2 separate regions of the Homo sapiens genome follow, and region 1 is linked to region 2. A link means that fine-mapping ties the variant in region 2 to the expression of a gene that starts in the linked region. Tissue or cell type: cerebellum. Region 2 holds a variant in brackets; the other region holds the start of a gene. All regions are shown on one strand. Distances are between the middles of the regions.

Region 1 (8,182 bases), 49 kb after region 2:
GCAACTTACTATTAAATAATAGACAAGAACATAGTGGTAAAGGCAGAATTAAAATATTTCCAACCTTAGTAATAAATGTTCTACACATAAATTTCAAATAATGGTTATCTAAATTTTAGTTTTTCAGGAAATTTGTTCATATGTATGTTATTCAAAACATCCTCTTACAATTGCTTAAATATCTGCAGGATCAATAGGAATGTCCTCTTTTATTAACAATATTGGTAATTTGTTTTCTTTCTTTTATTCTTCATCAGTCTCATGAGGGGTTTATCAAATTTATCCATCTTTTCAAAGAACAAATTTTTTTAGTTCTTCGAAAATTTTTGTTGGTTTTTCTCTATTGTTTGTTTTCTATTTCATTGATTTCTGTTCTTGTATTTATTATTTCAGTCATTTTGAATTTGATTTGCTTTTCTTTTTCTAGCTTCTTAAAATACAAATTTAGAACACTGGTTTTTAATTTTCTTTACTAATAATTTGTTTAAAATGATTCCAAGAACTGCTTTAGTTATAGGTTACAAGTTTGAGTTGCATCTTTTCATTATCATTCTATTCAAAATATTTTCTACTTTCCATTGTGATTTCTTCTTCAACCCATTGGTTAATTAGGATCTGTAGTGATACCTCCTTTTTCATTCCTGACATTGGTAATCTGTTTTCTCTTTTATTCTCAATCAGTCTATCTTGAAGTTTATTCATTTTGTTAATCTTTTCAAATATTTACAAAATACCAAAAAGTATGTTGCTTAATTTCCAAAGGTCTGAGATTCTTTTTAGTGATCTCTTATTGAGTTCCACTTTACTTCCACATGGTCAGGTGACATATACTGCACGCTTTCAATCCTTGGCGATTTATTGAGATTTCCTTTATGGCCTGCATATGGATAGTTTTTACCTTGTAACTCTACTTCAGCTCATAATCAGGAAGAGAGGGGGCACTAAATTAAATGCACACAAGATAACCTGGGAAAATGCTGAGTGCTCTCTCAAATTCTTCTTAGTCTGGGACATCATTTTTTTCCCAGTATTATTTCTTCTCATTTCTTTAGAAATAATAATGAATTGCGTATTTCCTAGCCTTCATTCAGCTTTAAATGAAGTAGTATACTGTCTTAAAGAACTCCACATTAACGACATAAATGTGGAAAAAAAAAAAAAGGAAATGTTTATGGATCATAATCTTAACTGGCTCTACTATCATACACCCACTGAGAACCTGCACAAAGACTCTGCTCTTTTCCTGTGTCGCTATTCTCTACTGGCCCCATCTCTCTTTCCTTTTGCACATAAGGCCAAATTCACATTAGGAGAATAAGACAACTCCTAAGAAATGCAGGCATGTAAATACCTGCTGCAATAAGAACACTTTATTTAGACACCCAAAAGAATTGCCCACTTATGATAGCTAGGTAAGAAATGTTGCTAGGCAATGCAAAATATACAACAACACGTAACAAAAAGTATATTCCTCTGGTAGGAAATGTCAAAAGTTGAGAGGTAACTGTTTTGTTTTGTTTTATTTTGTTTTGTTTTGTTTTTTTTTTTTGAGACAGAGTTTCGGAGTTTCGCTCTTGTTGCCCAGGCTGGAGTGCAATGATGCAATATTGGCTCACGGCAACCTCCACCTCCCAGGTTCAAGCAATTCTCCTGCCTCAGCTTCCCGAGCAGCTGGCATTACAAACATGCACCACCACGCCTGGCTAATTTTATATTTTTAGAAACGGGGTTTCTCCATGTTGGTCAGGCTGGTCTCAAACTCCTGACCTCAGGTGATCTGCCTGCCTCAGCCTCCCAAAGTGCTGGGATTACAGGCGTGAGCCACCGCGCCTGGCCATAACTGGTTTTATGACCATAAAAGATCTGTTCCTCTACTAAACTACCTCCATTCACAGGCAGAACAGTGTACATGGTACTTAGAGAGTGGACTCTCGAGCCAATCTGTTTTGATTTAAATCCCAGCTTCCCCACTTTCTACTGTGTAATTTTGGCAAGTTGCTCTAAATCTCTGTTTCTTCATCTATAAAATGAAAATAATTCAAAGCACTGCTGTGAGGATGAAATCAGTTCGTATGTGTAAAACACTCAAAATAGTGCCCACACACAGTAAGCTCTCAAGAACAATGAACTTGCTGACAATCTGCCTACTTGCTGGCCAATTGGTCAGTATGTCTTGATTACTCTATGGATCTAATCAAAGACAATGAAGTCACACCCAACTACATCTTTCTCTTTATCACAAACATGTCCTGAATGCCTTAGCCTGTTTTCATGTTCCCTCTGAATCATTCTGTCACTACCCTTAGTTCAGGTACCATTTAAGTCTTCCTTTGACTACCATAGAGTCAGGATGCTTGAGGGACATATGCACTGGGATGTTCCACCAACATCTCAAATGCATGTGTTCAAAATTGAACATCACCTTTCTCCTCCAAGCTGGCTCTTCCCTCTATATTCCCAGTCTCAGTCACAGACAATATGATCTACACAATCAATCAAGTAAGCCCAAAATCTAGGAATCATCTCCAGAGGAGCCTGCCTCCTCTTTCCTAACTGGTTAATGCCTGCTTATCCTTCAGGACAGCTCAGACATCATCTCCTGTGGGAAGCTGAGCCTGGGTACTCCTTCTCTGGGCTTTATAGCACCCTGGATATCTCTCTATCACAGCACTTACCACCTTATAATACAATTGTCTGTGTCTGTCTCCACAGCTTGGCTGTAAGCCCCTTAAAGCCAGGAACTATCATTCATCTCTGTATCCAGCACCCAACACAGCACATGGGACCTAAAGAACCCTCAACTAAGCTTATAGGGGCTGAAATAAAACTTAGAGACAGAGGTCGTGCTATGTTGCCCAGGCAGCCTCTAATTCCTGGACTTGAGTAATCCTCCTGCCTCAGCCCCCTTCGTAGCTGGGATTACTGGCATGTACAACCATGCCTCGCATCATCTTTCTGAAGTACAAATCTAATTACATCGCCCACCTGTTTAGAAAAACCTTTAGTCTCCCCCATTGCCTACTGTTAAAAAAAAAAAAAAATTCAAACTCTTTTTAGATTTCCCACAACCTCCCCTCAACCTACCTACCAGTCTCACAGCTCACCATGCCTTTACCTACCTTGAGGGAACCACATGAACTAACATTACCTCTACAGGCAATCTTCTCTGTCCTCAAAGAGAACCAGTCACCCCTTCTGTGCTACTACATCTATTGTGAGAGTTATAATAGATGAGTCTTTTTCTGTAAGTCTTACCCTCACCTTCCAGGACTGATCAACGTGAAGATCAAGACTAAACCTCACTCCTTCTTTACATCCCTCTCTCCTACAGGTTATGTAGCACAATCCTTAGTATACAGTACTTAGTCAATAAATGTTTGCTGTATGAAGAAATCAGTGGCAGATATGTCATCTCTACAAAAACAGTTAAGTATAGGTTCCATTCATAGGTCAATAGCTTCATTTTTTCACACAGATGAAAGAACAGAATGTTGTTCTAACAAAGACAAGTAAAATGTAGAAGCAACAGAAACTCAAAACCTCCTAGTTTTAAGATTAAAAAATACAAATCTCAAACCTTGTAGATAAAGAATGTCATTCAATAAAGAATGTCATTCAATAAAGAATGTCATTCAATTAATAAATAATGTATAATATTAAGCATCTACACCACGTGAAAGCACAAACCAAGCCAGGCACTGTGGTGATATAACAAATGAATCACAACTTCTGCCCTCCAGGCACTCATGTATGATGGCAAAAGGCACCACTTAGGGTGGCCAGGCAGTTGTTTGGGCAAGAGGAGGCAAGAATTTAAATTAGAAGGCAACGGTGGGAGTGTAAAGCAGGAATATTTAGCCTCAGCTGGACTGAGAGTATGTGATATCACAGAAGTGGATTCTTGACCTTTCAAGCCCGCACTACTGAGAGAAGAGCAAGGTGGATTGGCAGAGGATGCACTTAAAGTGGATTGACAAAACGTCGTATCTTCCTTATCCTGCTTCCAAATAAGCCTCTAAGAAAGGTGGCAGCATGATGTGGTGGAAAAAGCATCAGGCTAGGATCTGAGCCATCTGAGTTTCCATCAAGGCACTACCATTTGTGATATCCTCCACCCTGCCCCGAACCAATCATACAACAAAGCCTTGGCCTTCACTCATTTATCCCACAGGTAATCTCTGAACACCTTTCTTATGCAGGCACCACACTAAGCACTGGGGGTACAGATGTGTCGTGAAGAAATAATATCCCTGCTCTAATGGAGCTTGTAGCCTAATAGGGAAGTCAGACTTTACTCATAAACTGTCCATTCCAATCATGACATACAGTATAGTAGTAAGAGAATGGACTCAGACCCAGAATACGTGGGTTCAAACCCTGGCTCTGCTACTACCAGCTGTGTCACCAAAGGCAAGTTTTACTTAACCTGTGTCTTTTCTCATCTGTCAACTTGGTGTAACAACAGTTAATATTCAACAGTGATTGATATGATATATGTAAAGTAGCAGAAGAGTGGTAAGCGCTATCTGGGTGTTTGCAATGCATACCTACCGCTATTACTGATCATTCCCAGTAACGCATTCAGCCACCTGAGTCCATACTCACCGCTTGCTCATTCCTCATCCCGATGTACTTGATGCCTAGCTGCTGGGCAGCAATGGCGATTTCGGTCACTGGGATGCCTACGATGCCAAATATGTACTCCACATCCTGAGGAACGAAGAACAGGGGAGTAAACTCCCAAGGCCCCACCATATCGCCACATCCTTCCCTCCCTCCCGGGCGCTAAAAGGAAAACCCCCCGACCCCCATCGCCCATTTCTACTCGTCTCCAAGACAACATCGCGGTCCCCGCCAGCTTCCGTAGGAGCCTTTCATTCCAGGAAGGTCCATCGTACTTGCGTTTTCAGGGCCTGAGCGATGACTTTAGCACCAGACACCTGCTCCTCGCTGCGCTCTGCGAAGTTACTGTCCGGCATCTTCCACCGAAAAGCTCTAAGCACTCACGCAGCCGGCAAACAAGCGGAATCATCCAGCAAGGCAAACGCGAAATCGGCAGCACGCCACCTCTGGTACTGCACCTCTGACGGACAGGAGGGCAACCAACTGCCTTAAACAACGGGAAGGAAGAGGCGGTCTAAATTCGTCCACTTCCCGGGAGAGGTGAGAATGTAAACACGCGCGTTCTCCAATCAGAACTGCGCTCTCTTCTCGGCTCCTCCATTCGCGCGCCAGAATGCCAGAGGGAGGCGGGACTAGCAGGAGATTGCTGCCTATGCAAAGCAGGTAAGAAGCCGAACTCTGAGGCCTCTCGCCATTGTCTCCGAGTCGGCCAGCTGGAGCGTTTTCGGGGCTGTAAAGGGAGAATGGCGCATGCGCATATTCAGGGCGGAAGGCGCGCTAAGAGCAGGTACGGAGGGGGCGTGGTGCGGCGCGGAGGGGGTGTGGTAAGGGCGTGCGGTCCAGACCCCGCCCCGGGCGCCCAGTTGGACTTGGGGAGGGCTGCGCAAAGGCTGCCGGGAGCTGGGAAGCCCGGCGCGCGTCGTTTGCTGGGGCTGTTTGTGCGTTGCTGCTGTGCTACCGCGTTGCGTTTTCTAGGCATTTACTTACACGCTTTGTGGTTTACGCTCTCATAACCTTGTGGTTTTATAGTCCTTAAATTATTGTAGCGCACGTTACTTAAATCCAGAAGCAGATGTGTACCCCAGCAAGAGATAAAATGACGCTCAGAGTCAGTAGATCCAGACCGTGCCTGAGATCCTGAATCCTGTTTCCTACCCACTATTCAGCCATTGGGTCACAAGCGATGAAAAGAGCACCTTGAAGGTAGTATAGAGCACTGTTTTCTCCAGCCCTTGCTACTAATCCATATTACTCTCCGCTAATATCTTTCCAAAATTAGGAACTATGGCGTTTCATAATTCTTAGGTTGGGTCCCTACCTACAACCAGCCCTGCACCCGATAGCCTTTTAAAACATTTTTGTGTGAAAATCGTTTGCAATGTGCAATATCTGAAACTACTGCCTTGGAGTCATTAGACCCTCTGCTCAGTGACAATAAACATAAAATTTCCAATTGTAATAAACAGTGGAACTTTTAATTTTTTGAGGATTTGGAGTCATTTTAAGCAAAAAGAACAGTGATAAGTGGACAGTAAAGAGATGAGAGGGGAGTGGGTCATGGGTAGTGAAATGAGTGAGAAGCACTGGAAGTGAAACGATTTCTAAACCCAGACATTTTCAAACTGTAGTCCTGGGTCTTTTCAAAAGGTCTTCCCCTCTTTTTCTCAACCCCTCAACCCCACCCCAAGCAGAGGAGAGTGAAGTGGTTGCCTCCCTGCATATGTGGACGGTGTTAGTCCATTTTCATACTGCTATAAAGAAATACCCAAAACTGGGTAATTTATAAAGAAAAAGAGGTTTAATGGTCTCACAGTTCCAAATGGCTACGGAGGCCTCACAATCATGGCAGAAGGTGAAGGAGGAGCAAAGGCATGTCTTACATGGTGGCAGGCAAGAGAGCGTGTGCAGGGGAACTGCCCTTTATAAAACCATCAGATCTCATGAGACTTACTATCATTAGAACAGCATGGGAAAAATCCCCTCCCCATGATTCAGTTACTTCCCACTGGGTCCCTCTCACCACATGTGGGGATTATGGGAGCTATAATTCAAGATGAGATTTGGATGAGGACACAGCCAAACTGTTCTGCCCCTGGCCCCTCCCAAATATCATATCCTCACATTTCAAAACCAATCATGCCTTCCCAACAGTCCCCCAAAGTCTTAACTCATTTCAGCATTAACTCGAAAGTCCACAGTCCAGAGTTTCATCTGAGACAAGGCAAGTCCCTTCCGCCTATGAGCCTGTAAAATCAAAAGCAAGCTAGTGGCTGGGCGCAGTGGCTCACACCTGTAATCCCAGCACTTTGGGAGGCCGAGGCGGGCGGATCATGAGGTCAAGAGATGGAGACCATCCTGGTCAACACGGTGAAACCCTATCTCTACTAAAAATACAAAAAATTAGGCGGGCATGGTGGCAGGCGCCTGTAATCCCAGCTACTCAGGAGGCTGAGGCAGGAGAATGGTGTGAACCCGGGAGGCAGAGCTTGCAGTGAGCTGAGATTGGGCCACTGCACTCCAGCCTGGGGGACAGATCGAGACTCCGTCTCAAAAAAAATAATAAAATTAAATTTAAAAATAAATAAATAAAAGCAAGATAGTTACTTCCTAGATACAATGGGTGCACGGGAGTGAGGTAAATATACCCGTTCCAAATGGGAGAAATTGGTCAAGACAAAGGGGCTAAAGCCCCCATGCAAGTTCAAAATCTGGCAGGGCAGTCAAATATTAAAGCTCCAAAATGATCTTTGGATCATTTTGACTTCGTATCTCACAGCCAGATCATGCTGATGCAAGAGGTGGGCTCCCACAGCCTTGGGCAGCTCTGCCCTTGTGGTTTTACAGGCTACAACCCCCTCTCCCAGCTGCTTTCACAGGCTAATATTGAGTGTGTGCAGCTTTTCTAGGCACATGGTGCAAGTGGTCAGTAGATCTACCATTCTGGGGTCTGGAGGACGGTGGCCCTCTTCTCACAGTTCCACCAGCAGTGCCCCAGGAGGGACTCTGTATGGGGGCTCCCACCCCACATTTCCCTTCCACACTGCCCTAGCAGAGGTTCTCTATGAGGGCTCTACCCCTGCAACAAGCTTCTGCCTGGACATCCAGGCATTTCCATACATCCTCTGAAATCTAGGCAGAGGTTCCCAAACCTCAATTTTTGACTTCTGTGCACCTGCAGGCTCAACACCATGTGGAAGCTGCCAAGGCTTCAGGCTTGCACTGTCTGAAGCCAGGCCTGAGCTGTACATTGGCCCTTTTTAGCCATGGCTGGCATGGCTGGGATGCAGGACACCAAGTCCCTAGGCTGCAAACAGCAGGGGGACCCTGGACCTGACCCATGAAACCATTTTTCCTCCTAGGTTTCTGGGCCTGTGATGGGAGGGCCTGTTGTGAAGGTCTCTGACATGCCCTGGAGACATTTTCCCCATTGTCTTGGTGATTAATAGTTAGCTTCTTATTACCTATGCAAATTTCTGCTGCCAGCTTGAATTTCTCCCTAGAAAATGGGTTTTTATTTTCTACTGCATCGTCAGTCTGCAGATTTTTCAAATTTGTATGC
Region 2 (8,182 bases):
TTTATTGTTTGTGTTATCAATCATATGTTTTTTGATTTGAGGTTACCATGAAGCTTGCAAATAATATCTTATAACCCATTTCTTTAAACTGATGACAACTTAACACTTGTATAAACAAGCAAAGAGAAAACTAATTAAAATGCTACACTTTTTACATCAGTATAGTGTGAGAAATAAAAATAAAAAATCTGTACACTTTAACTTCTTCCCTCTACTTTTTATTTTGTTTTTGTTTTAATTTATACCTTACTGAACTCTGTCTTGAACAGTTGTTGCAGTTATTGTTTTGTTTTGAGATAGGCTCTCACTTAACGCCCAGGCTGGCTGTAGCCTCGACCTCCAGGGTGGTGACTCCCACCTCAGCCTCCTGAGTAGCTGAAAGTGCAGGAACATGCCACTACACTCAACTAATTTTTTGTATTTTTTTGTAGTGACAGGGTTTCACTATGTTGCCCAGGCTGGTCTTGAACTCTTGAGCTCAAGCAACCTGCCTACCTTGGCCTCCCAAAGTGCTGGGATTACAGGCAAGAGCCACTGTGCCTGGCCATTTTTGACTTGTCCATCATTTAGTCTTTCTACTTAAGATATGAGTTTGCACACCACAATTACAGTGTTATAATATTTTGTGTTTTTCTGTGTGTTTACTATTAACAGTGAATTCTGCAGCTTCAGATAATTTCTTATTGCTCATTAAGGTCTTTTTCTTTCAGATTGAAGAATTCCCTTTAGCATTTCTTGTAGGACAGGTCTGGTGTTGATGAAACCCTTCAGCTTTTGTCTGGGAAAGTATTTCTTCTTCACAGTTGAAGGAAATTTTTGCTGGTTATATTATTCTACAGTAAAAGTTTTTTCCTTCAGCACTTGAAATGTGTCATGTCACTCTTTTTCCTGGCCTGTAAGGTTTCCACTGCAAAGTCTGCTGCGAGACGTACTGAAGCGTCATTGTATACTGTTTCTTTTCTCTTGCTTGTAGGCTGACTTCCTTATCCTTGACCTTTGGGAGTTTCATTATTAAATGCCTTGAGGTAGCCTTCTTTAGGTTAAATCTGCTTGGTGTTCTATAACCATCTTGTACTTGAATATTAATATCTTTCTCTAGGTTTGGGAAGCTGTTATTATCCTTTTGAATAAACTTTCTACCCTCATCTCTCTCTCTACCTACCTCCTCTTTAGGGCCAATAACTTTTTTTTTGAGACGGACTCTTGCTCTGTCACCCAGGTTGGAGTGCAGTGGCACAATCTTGGCTCACTGCAACCTCCACCTGCCGGGTTCAAGTGATTCTCCTGCCTCAGCCTCCTAAGTAGCTGGGACTACAGGCACGTGCCACCACACCTGGCCAATTTTTTTGTATTTTTTGTAGAGATGGGGTTTCACCGTGTTAGCCAGGATGGTCTCGATCTCCTGACCTCATCATCCACCCACCTCGGCCTCCCAAAGTGCTGGGATGACAGGCGTGAGCCACCATGCCCGGCCTTAAGGCCAATAACTCTTAGATTTGCCCTTTTGATGCTACTTTCTAGATCTTGTAGGCATGCTTCATTCTTTTCTTTCTTTCTTTTTTTTTTTTTTTTGTCTGTGACCATGTATTTTCAAGTAGCTTGTCTTCAAGCTCACTGATTCTTTCTTCTGCTTCATCAATTCTGCTGTTAAGAGACTGAAACATCCTTCGGCATGTCAACTGCATTTTTCAAATCCAGAATTTCTGCTTGATTCTACTTAATCGTTTCAATCTCTTTGTTAAATTTATCTGAAAAGATTCTGAATTCCTTCTGTGTTATTTTGAATTTCTTTGACTTTCCTCAAAACCGAGTTCCTTTTGAATTCGGTCTGAAAGTTCACATATTTCTGTCTCTTTGGGATTGGTCCCTAGTGCTTTAGTTAGTTTGGTGAGGTCATGTTTTCCTGGATGGTCTTGATGCTTGCAGATGTTCATCAGTGCATGCACATTGAAGAGTTAGGTATTGATATGGTTTGGCTGTGTCCCCACCCAAATCTCAACTTGAATTGTATCTCCCAGAATTCCCACGTGTTGTGGGAGGGACCCAGGGGGAGGTAATTGAATCATGGGGGCTGGTCTTTCCCATGCTATTCTCGTGATAGTAAGTCTCACGAGATCTGATGGGTTTATCAGGGGTTTCCGCTTTTGCTTTTTCCTCATTTTCTCCTGTTGCCACCATGTAAGAAGTGCTTTTTAACCTCCCACCATGATTCTGAGCCTCCCCAGCCATATGGAACTGTAAGTCCAATTAAACCTCTTTTTCTTCCCAGACTCGGGTATGTCTTTACAAGCAGCATGAAAATGAACTAATACAGTAACTTGGTACCAGTAGAGTGGGGCATTGCTGAAAAGATACCTGAATATGTGAAAGCAACTTTGGAACTGGCTAACAGGCAGAGATTGGAATAGTTTGAAGGGCTCAGAAGAAAACAGGAAAATGTGGGAAAGTTTGGAACTTCCTAGAGACTTGTCGAATAGCTTTATCCAAAATGCTGATGGTGATATGGACAATACAATTTAGGCTGAGGTGGTCTCAGATGGAGATGAGGAACTTTTTGGGAACTGGAGCAAAGATGACTCTTGTTATGTTTTAGCAAAGAGAGTGGCAACATTTTGCCCCTGCCCTAGAGATTTGTGGAACTTTGAATTTGAGAGAGATGATTTAGGGTATCTGGCAGAAGAAATTTCTAAGCAGCAAAGCATTCAAGAGGTTACTTGGGTGCTGTTAAAGCCATTCACTTTTATAAGGGAAGAAGAGCATAAAAGTTTGGACAGTGTGCAGCCTGGCTGTGCGATAGAAAAGAAAAACCCATTTTCTGGGGAGAAATTCAAGTCAGCTACAGAAATCTGCATAAGTAGCAAGGAGACTAATGTTAATCCCCAAAACCATGGGGAAAATGTCTCCAGGCAATGTCAGAGAACTCTGCAGCAGCCCCTCCCATCACATGCCTGAAGGGCCAAGGAGGAAAAAGTAGTTTCATGGACCGGGTCCAGGGTCCCCGTGCTGCGTGCAGCCTATGGACTTGGTGTCCTGTGTCCCAGCGGCTCCAGCCATGGCTGAAAGGGGCCAACATACAGCTCGGGCTGTGGCTTCAGAGGGTGGAAGCCTCAAGCCTTGGCAGCTTCCACATGGTGTTCAGCCTGTGGGTACACAGAAGTCACAAGAACTGAGGTTTGGGAACCTCTGCCTAGATTTCAGAATATTCATGGAAACACCTGGATGCCTGGGCAAAAGTTTGCTGCAGGGGCAGGGCCCTCATGGAGAACCTCTGCTAGGGCAGTGCAGAAGGGAAATGTGGGGTCAGAGCCCCCACACAGAGTCCGTACTGGGGCACCACCTGGTGGAGCTGTGAGAAGTGGGCCACTGTCTTCCAGACCCCAGAACAGCAGATCCACTGACAGCTTGCACCATGTACCTGGAAAAGCTGCAGACACTCAATGCCAGCCCACGAAAACAGCGAGGAGGGAGGCTGTACCCTGCAAAGCCACAGGGGCAGAGCTGCCCAAGACCATGGGAACCCAACTCTCGCATCAGCGTGACCTGGGTGTGAAACCTGGAGTCAAAGGAGATCATTTTGGAACTTTAAAATTTGATGGCCCCCTGGATTTAGGACTTGCATAGGCCCTGTAGCCCCTTTGTTTTGGCCAATTTCTCCCATTTGGAATGGCTGTATTTACCCAATGCCTCTACCCCCAGTGTATCTAGGAAGTAACTAGCTTGCTTTTGATAGGCAGAAGGGACTTACTTGACTTGTCTCAGATAAGACTTTGGACTGTGGACTTTTGGGTTAATGCTGAAATGAGTTAAGATTTTGGGGGACTCTTGGAAGGCATGATTGGTTTTGAAATGTGAGGACATTGAGATTTGGAGGGGCCAGGGACAGAATGATATGGTTTGGCTGTGTCCCCCAACAAATCTCAACTTGAATTGTATCTCCTAGAATCCCCATGTGTTTTGGAAGGGACCCCAAGGGGAGATAATTTAATCATGGGGGCTGGTCTTTCCTGTGCTATTCTCATGATAGTAAGTCTCAGGAGATCTGATGGCTTTATCAGGGGTTTCTGCTTTTGCTTCTTCCTCGTTTTCTCTTGCCACCACCATTTAAGAAGAGCCTTTTGCCTCCCACCATGATTTTGAGGCCTCCCTGGCCATGTGGAACTGTAAGTCCAATTAAACCTCTTTTTCTTCCCAGTCTCCGGTATGTCTTTACTAGCAGCATGAAAATG[G/A]ACTAATACAGGTATCTATTGTAGTCTTCACAGCCTGAGACAGTTTGTACCTATACTTCTTGGGAAGGCTTTCCAGGCATTTGAAGGAACTTGTGTGTTGTGATCCAAGTTTTTGGCTGCTGCAGCCAAACCTGCATTAGGGGGCACCCCAGGCCCAGTAATGCTGTGTAATACCCCAAGACCTTGGCGGTCTTGGATAAGATCCAGAAGAATTCTCTGAATTGCCAGGCCTAGACTCTTGTTCTCTTACCTTACTTTCTCCCAAACAAATGTAATCTTTCTGTGCTGTTCCTTCTGGAGCTGGGGGAGGGATGACACAAGCACCCCTATGTCCACCACCACTGGGACTGCACTGGGTCAGACCTGAAGCCAGCACAGCACTGGGTCTTGCTCAAGGCCCACGGTAACCACTACCTGGCTACTGTGTATATTCACTCAAGGCTCTAGGGCTCTACAATCAGCTGGACAAAGCCAGCCAGGCTTGTGTCCCTCCCTTTAGGGCAGTGAGGTCCCCTCTGCCTTGACTGGGTCCAGAGATGCCATCCGGGAACAGGATCTGGAGTCAGAAAACTTCGGAATTTACCTGGTTCACTATTTTACTGAGGCTGAGCTGGCACCCAAGTCACAAGACAAAGTCCTTCCCACACTTCCCTCCCATTTCCACAAGAAGAGTCTGTTTGTGGTCACCACCACCCCAGGCACACAGCAACTACTGCCTGGCCACTGCCAATGTTCACCCAAGGTTGAAGTCCTCTTCAGTCAGCTTGTGATGAATACTGCTAGGCCTGGGACTCTCCCTCCAGGTCACTGGGCTCCCCTCTGGCCCAGGGCAGGACTAGGAATGCCATCCAAGAGCCAAGGCCTCATACTGGGGACTCCAAGAGCCTGCTTGGTGCTCTATTCACTGTGGCTGAATTGGTACCTAAGCTCCAAGACAAAGACACCTTTACTCTTCCCTCTCCTTTTCTCAAGCAGAAGGAGTCTCCCCCAGTAGCCATCACAGCTGGGAATGTGCTGGATCATACCTGAAGCCAGCACATCTGAGTCTCACCCAAGGCCCATGATGAGTACCACCTGGCTACTACTGCTGATTATTCAGGGCCCAAGGGCTCTTTCATCAGCAGGTGATGAATCCTGCCAGGTTTGGATCCTTTCCTTCAAGGCAGTGGTAGGGGTCTAGCCCAGGTAGGTCTAGAAATGTCATCAAGGACCTAGGGCCTGGAATGGGGGCCTCAGGACTGCCTGGTGCCCTACCCTACTGTGGCTGAACTCGAAGACAAAGTCCTCTTTACTCTTCCCTCTCCTTAGGCAGAAGGAACGAGTCTCTCCTAGAGCTGCGAGCTGCACTGCCTGGGGCAAGGGAAGGGGTGGTATAAACACTCCCTTGGCCACCCCGGCTGGTATCTCACTGGACTGTGTGCCCCTGAAGTCTACTGGCTCCAAGCCCAGCACAGCATCAAGACTTGCCCAGGAATTGAAGTCCTTGTGGCTTAGACTGTCTTTCAAGTTTATTTAGGACTCCAGAGTACTTTAGCCCTTCTGGCTAGGAGTGGTCTAAATGCTCCCTCCATGGACACCAGCTGAGTTCTGCCTCATGATGCTTTCTGCTGTGACACAGCAGCACTAAGTTCCAATGCAAAGTCCCACAGTTACGGCACTCTCCCTCCCCTAAATGCACAGATTCTCTCCATGCCACACAACCACTGCTGGGGCATGGGGGAGGGGTGGCATCAGCAATTCAAGACTGTCTTTCCTACCCTCTTCAGTGCCTCTTTCAGTGATAGGAAGTTAAAAACAGGTACTGTGATTTCTCACCTTATTTTTGCTTCTTATGAAGGTGCTTTATTGTGTGGATAGTTAATTTGGTGTTTCTGCAAGGATGATGATTGGTGGAGGCTCCTATTCAGCCATCTTGCGCCACCTCCTCCCTCTTTTCTGGTCTGAGATTTTGAAGGTGAAGACTACAGAGGAGCAGCTTTCTCAATATGTTTGCCTTTGTCATTGGTCTCAGTGCTATGAAGGAAGGTGGTTTAGGCAACAAGTAATTGACTAGCATTTCAACTAGCCCTGACTGGGGGTTAATTGCCAATAAGTCACTTGTTATTGCAGGTGACCACAAGCCCCAACTTGGAAATGGTAGTAGGTATTCTTTTTTGATCTTGTCATGTATTTCAACCCTGCAGCCTCAGTAACTCCTAATAGGGAGGTTTTCTTGTCATCTTTTACTCCCTCCTGAAGGAGGAAAGTAGATAAATGACGTGCTGATTCTAAAACACCTAGAAGGAAAATGGTGCGTGCCCACCAATGCCATTTAGCCTTGTTTTGGAAGTACTTGCCAATGCCACTAAATAGCAACAAAACAGATTAATATCTAGAAACAAATTTAACAAAAATTGTGTAAGATCAATATAATGAAAACTTTAAAATTCCACTGACAACTAGGCCTCAATGACCCTGAAAGAACTGCCCAGCACAGGGTTAGACAATTCCCAGTGATAGCAAATGATTCACCTGCTTGAGCCTTACTGACCTTGGAGAGGTCAAACAACTCGCCTTTCATACACAAGCCAACCAATCCAGAGCTCATAACCCCAACTTCCCTCTTCATGGCCCTCTTTATGGTGCTCTCACATTCTGGGAGATTATCTCCCTACCCAATCACCCCAGGCCCGCATTCAGACAGCTAGGGACAGCCTCTACACCATTCCTGAGCATATCGACATTGTTCAAATAAACAAATCCTAAACTTGTTTACCCTGCCTCACTTCTTTCTTCCTGCAGTAATCACAATAGGGTTTTAGCCCACTAGTTCTCATTCTCTTTCTACCTGAGACCTCTTCTTGGGAACTCTGAGTAATAACTATTTTTTCAATACCAACAGTCTCCTGATATGTTGGCCTTACCGAATATTTTCTGTTAACACACTATATTTTAAAATACACTGTAATTAAAATATCAGATTTTTTTGCTACTAAGGTTAATATGGAAAAATCATCAAGTGAAAATAACTGCTGGGCCTGGTGGCTCATGCCTGTAATCCCAGCACTTTGGGAGGCCAAGGCGGGTGGATCACCGAGGTCAGGAGTTCGAGACTGGCCTGACCAACATGGTGAAACCTCGTCTGTACTAAAAATACAAAAATTAGCTGGGTGTGGTTGCAGGCACCTGTAATCTCAGCTACTAGGGAGGCTGAGGCAGGAGAATCACTTGAACCCAGGAGGAGGAGGTTGCAGTGAGCCGAGATTGCGCCATTGTACTCCAGCCTGGGCAACAGAGGGAAACTCTGTCTCAAAATAAACAAATAAAATAACCATAAAAATTCTGAAACGCAAGAGTAATGTAGGGTGGTGTGGAGAGGGGATGGATGGAGTGGCTGATGGAGGGTAGGGAGCCAGGGATGGCACTACGAACCATTAAATGGTTTGATGAATGTAGTGGATATAAATCTCAGTCCACAACAGTGTGAAAGAAATATTTATTTTCAGTAATTCTATCTAATTTTAATTTTGACCTTCATTTTGCCAGGGTGGAAATAAAACTTCAGTCATTTTAGGGCCTCACGATCACCAGCCCCCCATCCCCAGCATTGCTCTAAGAACCGCTGGGCTTACTTAATACCCAGGCATCAGGGTGGACCTCTGATCCTTGGTAGTTCATCCATTCACCCTGCATCCTTGTTTAAAATTGTCTGCTATAGCTTTTGTGATATAAACCCTTCCTGGATTACTTCCTTCCCAAAACAAGATGGTGAGGGAGATGGGAATTTAGCTCACCGTGAACACTGAGTTTGTGACAGGGGTGCACCCCAGGTGCGGCAGGAACATTCAGAGAAAGGAAGGCTTCATGGAAGAGTGGACTGTTGAGCTGGGCCTTGAAGCATATAGCCAACTCCACACGGCAAAAATGGGTGGGTGTGTACAGAGCATCACAGCAGAAACAGCACAAGCAAAGCTGGG

What was found. PIP is the estimated chance that this variant, and not a neighbour inherited with it, causes the effect.
Region 1: it holds the start of HACL1, and the variant in region 2 is fine-mapped to the expression of HACL1 in cerebellum (GTEx, PIP above 0.99).

Annotation. Positions count from the first base shown.
Region 1 is chr3:15,596,485-15,604,666 of GRCh38, forward strand. HACL1 (2-hydroxyacyl-CoA lyase 1) reads right to left here and starts at 5,085. Exons shown (of 17, transcript NM_012260.4): 1 at 4,899-5,085; 2 at 4,606-4,710. The coding sequence starts at 4,979. It overlaps BTD (biotinidase), which reads left to right and starts at 5,261. Exons shown (of 4, transcript NM_001370658.1): 1 at 5,261-5,410. RefSeq lists an enhancer at 4,990-5,632 and a silencer at 5,474-5,533.
Region 2 is chr3:15,547,106-15,555,287 of GRCh38, forward strand. No RefSeq gene overlaps it. Among named protein-coding and RNA genes, the nearest start is that of COLQ, 29 kb to the left of the region's middle. The variant G/A (reference allele first, on the strand shown) is at 4,227.